Homo sapiens: one gene and its partner. The protein of the gene in region 1 interacts with the protein of each later gene in a biochemical or structural test. Each region holds a gene or a part of one and is shown on either strand. Other genes may lie near its edges.

What was found.
Region 2: the proteins of XIAP (region 1) and HTRA4 form a complex in vitro, tested with the Homo sapiens proteins (2 studies listed by BioGRID and IntAct, with this or other methods).

The regions. Positions count from the first base shown.
Region 1 is NC_000023.11:123,862,959-123,866,711, reverse strand, and holds part of XIAP (E3 ubiquitin-protein ligase XIAP), read right to left. Parts: intron 1-3,753.
Region 2 is NC_000008.11:38,984,128-38,987,880, forward strand, and holds part of HTRA4 (serine protease HTRA4 precursor), read left to right. Parts: intron 1-3,753. UniProt on the Homo sapiens protein: Serine protease.

The sequences.
Region 1 (3,753 bases):
CTAGACTCTGTCTGAAAAATATATATATTATATATGTAATATATTTTACATATTATATTGTGTTATATATTATATATATTTTACATATATTGTATTATATATTATATATAATATATTATACATGTAATATATTATATACTATATTATATATATCATACATTATTATATACATATTATATATTTTGATATTATATATGATATATCATATATTATATATTAATCATATATAATATATTGTATATAATATAATTTATATCATATATATTATATATCATGTATAATATATATTATATAATATATATAGAAACACATATTTCTTTTATAACTTAAAATACTCAAAGGCCGGCACAGTGGCTCATGCCTGTAATCCTGGCACTTTGGGAGGCCAAGGCGGGCAGATCACATGAGGTCAGGAGTTCAAGACCAGCCTGGGCAACATGGTGAAATCCTGTCTCTACTTAAAATACAAAAAAGGCTGGGTGTGGTGGCTCACACCTGTAATCCCAGCACTTTGGGAGGCTGAGGTGGGTGGATCACGAGGTCAGGAGTTCGAGGCCAACCTGGTTAACATGGTGAAACCCCGTCTCTACTAAAAATACAAAAATTAGCCAGTTGTGGTGGCGTGCGCCTGTAATCCCAGCTACTCGGGAGGCTGAGGCAGGAGAATTGCCTGAACCCAGGAGGCGGAGTCTGCAGTGAACAGAGATCGCAGCCATTGCACTCCAGCTCTGGGCGACAGAGCAAGACTCTGTCTCCGAGGGGAAAAAAAGAGATACCAAAAAAAAAAAAATTAGCCAGGTGTGGTAGCACACGCCTGTAATCCCAGCTACTTGGGAGGCTGAGTCACCAGAATTACTTGAACCCAGGAGGTGGAGGTTGCAGTGAGCTGGGATCATGCACTGAACTCCAGCCTGGGTGACACAGCAAGACAATGTCTCAAAAACAAATAAATAAAATAAAATATTCAAAATACCCTTTTATTTTTTTTGAGTCGGAGTCTCGCTCTGTAGCTCAGGCTGGAGTGCAGTGGCGCAATCTCGGCTCACTGCAAGGTCCGCCTCCCGGGTTCACACCATTCTCCTGCCTCAGCCTCCCAAGTAGCTGGGACTACAGGCGCCTGCCACCACGCCCAGCTAATTTTTTGTATTTTTTTTTTTTTTTAGCAGAGAGGGGTGCCAGGATGGTCTAGATCTCCTGACCTCGTGATCCGCCCGCCTCAGTCTCCCAAAGTGCTGGGATTACAGGCGTGAGCCACCACGCCCGGCCTTAAAATACCCTTTTTATGTTTTGAATTCAACACCTAAAATAACATATCAAAAATGTGAACATGTAAAGAAAGATGGGGTCATTGACATGCACAATCCCACAGCTAATTGGAAACAAAGTCAATAACCTGTACTGTGGTACCCAACGTAGGGCTCTTTCCAAACACTGTAGCACATGACCTCTAAGATACAGAAACAGTATTTGTTAAATTCTAAAGTATTTTTTATCTTATCACTACTGTTTGTCTCTTCATATCTACTCACACAATGTCCTTTAATAGTGCTAACAGGTTACATTTTATAAAACTATTACCAGATTATCTCACAGAGATAAAGCTTGAGAATTGACAGCTCATGATAATCTCCCAGCCTCAAAAGAACAATGGAAAAACAAACAAACACACAAAAGCAAAATAAAAACAGACGAACATAAAAAAGCAAAAAAAAAAAAAAAAGAAGAAAGGCGGCCTGGTGTGATGGCTCGCGCCTGTAATCCCAGCACTTTAGGAGGCCAACGCAGGCAGATCACGAGGTCAGGAGAATGCGACCATCCTGGCTAACATGGTGAAACCCTGTCTTTACTAAAACACACACACACACACACACGGTGAAACCCTGTCTTTACTAAAACACACACACACACACACACACACACACACACACACACACACACACACACGAGAATGCGACCATCCTGGCTAACATGGTGAAACCCTGTCTTTACTAAAACACACACACACACGGTGACACCCTGTCTTTACTAAAACACACACACACACACACACACACACACACACACACACACACACACTCTAAGCCGGGTGTGGTGGCGGGTGCCTGTAGTCCCAGCTACTTGAGAGGCTGAGGCAGGAGAATGGCGTGAAGCCGGGAGGCAGTGCCTGCAGTGAGCCAAGATCGCGCTACTGCACTCCAGCCTGGGCAACAGAGCCAGACTCCGTCGTCTCAAAAAAAAAAAAAAAAAAAAAAAAAACAGAAGAAAGGCATTTGTTTTGCCATATTTATCCTTGGAATCCTACCACATACTACAATGAATGCCTGGAACACATTAAGTGCTCAATGAATGTTTATTTCATAAACTGTAGGTTTTGCTCTCTGCTAATACTACCTACCAGACTTAAATATTAGACCAAACAAAAACAGTGAAATATCATTATTTTATCGCTAAACATTTACAATATAAATACAGGATTTACTAAAGAAATTAATGTTTACAATGAAATAAAAGGAGAACATTTATTTACTAAATTAGTAAATTTATTTAGTAAAATTTATGTTACTAAAATATTTTAAGCACTATACAAATTAGCTGGTCCATTAATTATAATAATTTTGAGAAACTGCTCACTTCCTGAAAATGAAAAAAAAAAGGAAGACAAAATAAAATAAAAACCAAAGAAAAAAATAATAATTCTTAACTATTGAAATGGTCCTGGCTAACCTTTAGATATTATTACTTTGTCAGCCTAGTTGGAATCATCCAATGCACTAGAAAGCAATAAAATTACAGGTATAGTACAAGGGCCACTAGACTAGAACCTAGACTCTAGTCCAAGCTTTGCTAATAATCAGATATATTACGGTGGGCAATATTTTTTTTGAGTCTTAATCTATTTCTAAAAACGAGACAGCTGGGCCAGGTGCAGTGACTCACTTTTTCACCTGAGGTCCCAGCACTTTTTCACCTGAGGTCGGGAGTTTGAGACCAGCCTGACCAACATGGAGAAACCCCGTCTCCACTGAAAATACAAAATTAGCCGGGCGTGGTGGCGCATGCCTGTAATCCCAGCTACTCGGGAGGCTGAGGCAGGAAACTGCTTGAACCTGGGAGGCAGAGGTTGAGGTGAGCCGAGATCGCACCATTGCACTCCAGCCTGGGCAACAAGAGTGAAACTCCATCTCAAAACAAAAACAAAACTAGACAGCTGAACTCCTAATCACTATAAACTGTTTTAGTCTTAACTTTTTATTTGTTTTTGAGGTGGAGTCTCACTCTGTGGCCCAGGCTGGAGTTGAATGTTGCGTTCTCAGCTCACGGCAACCTCCGCCTCATGGGCTCAAGTGGTTCTCCTGCCTCAGCCTCCCAAGTAGCTGGGACTACAGGGGTGTACCGCCACACCCAGCTAATTTTTGTATTTTTAGTAGAGATGGGGTTTCACCATGTTAGCCAGGCTGGTCTTGAACTCCTGACCTCAGGTGATCCGCCCACCTCAGCCTCCCAAAGTGCTGGGATTACAGGTGAAAGCCACCGCACTTGGCCCTAGTCTTAACTTTTTTAAAAAATATGTTCTTATCTACAAAGAGTCTACAATTCAGATTTTTGTTTCTTTGTTTTGTTTGAGACAGGGTCTCACTCTTTCGCCCAGGCTGGAGTACAGTGGCCCAATCATGGCTCACTGCAGCCTCCACCTCCCAAGGCTCAGGTGATCCTCCTGCCTCAGCTCCCCAAAGTAGCTAGGACTACAGGCAC
Region 2 (3,753 bases), on another chromosome or scaffold:
GTAGCTGGGATTACAGGCACCCGCCACCACGCTTGGTTAATTGTTGTATTTTTAGTAGAGACAGGGTTTCACCATGTTGGCCAGGCTGGTCTCGAACTCCTGACCTCAAGTGATCCACCCACCTCGGCCTCCCACAGTACTGGGATTACAGGCATGAGCCACCACGCCTGGCCATATTTTAGGTATTTTAAAACACATTTTTCGGCTGGGCATGTTGGCTCAGCCCTGTAATCCTAGCACTTTGGGAGGCTGAGGTGGGAGGATTGCTTGAGCCTGAGAGTTCGAGACCAGCCTGGGGAACACGGTGAAACCCTGTCTCTACAAAAAATAAAAATTAGGCCAGGTGCCGTGACTCACGCCTGTAATCCCAGTACTTTGGGAGGCCAAAGTGGGCAGATCACTTGAGGTCAGGATTTTGAGACCAGCCTGGCAAACTTGGTGAAACACCATCCCTACTTAAAAAATATAAAAATTAGCTGGGTGTGGTGTCGCATGCCTGTAATCCCAGCTACTTGGGAGGCTGAGGTCAGAGAATCGCTTGAACCTGGGCAGCAGAGGTTGCAGTGAGCTGGGATCACGCCCCTGTACTCCAGCCTGGGCAAGAAAGCGAGACCCCATTTAAAAAAACAAAAAACAAAAAACAAAAATTAGCCAGGTGTGGTGGTTTGCACCTGTGGTCCCAGTTACTTGGGGAGGTCGAGATGGGAGGATCACCTGAGTCTGGGCTGTAATGAGCTGTGCTCATGCCACTGCACTCCAGCCTGTGCAACAGAGTGAGACCCTGTCTCAAACAAACAAACAAGCAAAAAAAAACTACACCAAAACCTCACAAAACCTACATTTTTCTTTGAACTCTGAATGACAATATCAGAGGCCAGCGCTAAGACCTGTGTAATAAAGCAAAGGCTAGGACAGCTTCCAAAAGAAGGTTCTCCAGCTGATTTCACTGTTGTTTCAAAACATTTAATACTAAGTACTGAGAGAGGTGGCTTGTCCTACAAATATCATTCTCCTGGGCTTTTCTGTTGTACTTCTTTTTTTTTTTTTTTTTTGAGACGGAGTCTCGCTCTGTCACCAGGCTGGAGTGCAGTGATGCGATCTCGGCTCACTGCAACCTCTGCCTCCTGGGTTCAAGTGATTCTCCTGCCTCAGCCTCCCGAGGAGCTGGCACTACAGGCGTGTGCCACCACGCGCAGCTAATTTTTGTATTTTTAGTAGAGATGGGTTTTCACCATGTTGGCCAGGATGGTATCCATCTCTTGACCTTGTGATCCGCCTGCCTCGGGCTCCCAAAGTGCTGGGATTACAGGCGTGAGCCACCGCCCGCGGTCTGTACTTCTTTATTATCCCTTTCTCATTGTTTTTATTTTTCAAGAGCTCAGTAATCTGTTTAGATTATGGCACCACTTTCACTGGGGCTTTCCCCCTAGTGAAATCAGAGGGCACTGTTCAGCACAGCAGTCATAGGTCTCATGTTACTAAATTTGGCTTGTCCCTGGTTTCTCTGGACTTTTCTCATTCCTGCTCTGCTCCACTCTTCCCCCATTTCCTTAAGTTCTGGTTCAAGACCAAAGCTATTTCTTTCGGCTAAGTCCTTGCTACTCAGAATGTGGTCTGTAGACCAGCGTCATTAGCTCAGCTGGGGCTTGTTGGAAAGGCAGAATCCCAGGTCCCACCTTTGATCCACTGAATCGGAATCTGTGTGTTTAACAAGATCCCCAGGTGATTCATGTGTATGTTAAAATGTGAAAATTAGTGCTGGAAGTTGCTGATAAACAGAAATCAGGACTGGGCATGGTGGCTCATGCCATGATGTGGGAGGATCATTTGAAACCAGGAGTTTGAGACCAGCCTGAGCAACATAGTTTCTAAAGACAAATAAATAAAATAAACAAAATCAGCTGGGTGTGGTGGCAGGTGCCTGTAGGGAGGCTGAGGCAGGAGGATCATGTGAGCCCAGGAGTTTGAGGCTGCAGTGAGCCATGACTGCACCACTGTATTCCAGCCTGGGTAAGAGAGTGAGAACCTGTCTCAAACAAATCTATTCTTTCTGGCTTTCACTGACTTATACCTAATATAATGATAATTACACCACTATCTGGCACTTACAAAACTTTTACTATATCTCAGGCACTATTTGAAGTGTTTTATTTTTATTATTATTATTTTTTTGAGACTGAGTTTCGCTCTTGTTGCCCCAGCTGGAATGCAATGGCATGATCTCAGCTCACTGCAACCTCCGCCTCCTGGGTTCAAGCGATTCTTCTGCCTCAGTCTCCCAAGTAGCTGGGATTACACACCTAGCTAATTATTGTACTTTTAATAGAGACGAGGTTTCACTATGTTGGGCAGGCTGGTCTCGAACTCCTGACCTCAGGTGATCCACACGCCTGTGGCTCCCAAAGTGCTGGGATTACAGTGTGAGCCACTGCTCCTGGCCTATTTGAAGTGTTTTATACACCTGTTTGTGCTCCCAACATTTTATGATATAGGTATTATTTTATAGAGGAAGCAGCTGTGGTACAAAGAGGTTCATTAACTTGTAGAACGCAGTAAATCAGAGAGCAGAGAGCAGGGATGTGGGCCCTGGCTGAACCCTTCTATTATCCTGCTTTGGTGGCTGCTTTTCTGTTTCTGACAGGCAGAGTGATTTAGTGGCAAGAAGATGGGTTCCCAAGTCTGAAAGACCCAGGATGAAATCCCTCTCACAAGTTGCATGACACAGAAAAAGGTCATTTGTCCTGTCTGAGCCATAGTTCCTCATATTTGGTGCATAGGTTATTAGTAATAATTTGCAGGTTTCTTTTTCTCTTTTCTGACTCACAGGACTAGTATGAATTAAGTTCTCTATAAGTTCTTTCTTTGTACTCACTGGTCCTAAGTCATCCTCCTAAACTGTCTTTGTTCTAAGGTTATTTCTTGATTTTAGTTTTATACTTAAGCGTCTCTTCATATCCTCTTGCGTTAAGCTTCTTCTTTTTAAACTCCACATATCTTGATGATCAAACCACATTATCATTCTTCCTTGAGCTTCCCATTTCTATCAAGTGGTGTCTCCTGGAGTCATTTGCTGTTCCTTTTTCAGCCTATTTTCACCAAATCACTGGCATGGCTATTTCTGTATTGTAGTGTTTTGTATTTGGAGCTGGTTTTTGCTTCTAGAATATATACTCTATGTGAAGCAATTATGTTGAAGGCAATAAAGTCACAACTTTGGAGAAAAGGAGCCTAGAGCCAGAGCTGGAAATATTTAGACTCAGAAGGTTGGCGGGTTTTTGATTTAGTGGAAGCAGAATTCCTATAATGCAGCTCAGCATCCTTCCCAGCTCCATAAGCTGGGGCGGGGGGGTGGGGTGGGGTGGGAAAGACAGGCAAGTGAGTGGGCTGCCAGAATCAAACTGAGCCGAGTTTAAGTGTCTGGGAGAAAACATATTGCTTGGGCTTTTCACTTTGGCTGCTGAGGCTGGGAGCATGTTTGAAGTTCACAGAGGTCAGGGGTTGATAGAAATTAAAAGCTAAACTCCCCCTTCCAAACCAACTCCCCAAAATGGGAGGAGTAAACTTCTCACATGATTCTGATAGGAAATTAATTTTATAAAGGTAAATAAGACAGTTGTCCTCTAGGTGACTTTTTTGCAGCATATTTTAGAATAGCTTTATGATTTGGAAGGATTGAGGCTATTTTCTCGTTTGTATGCTTAATGCCAGCAAAATAGTGCCATTAAGACAGAAATATTAAATTATAGATGGGGA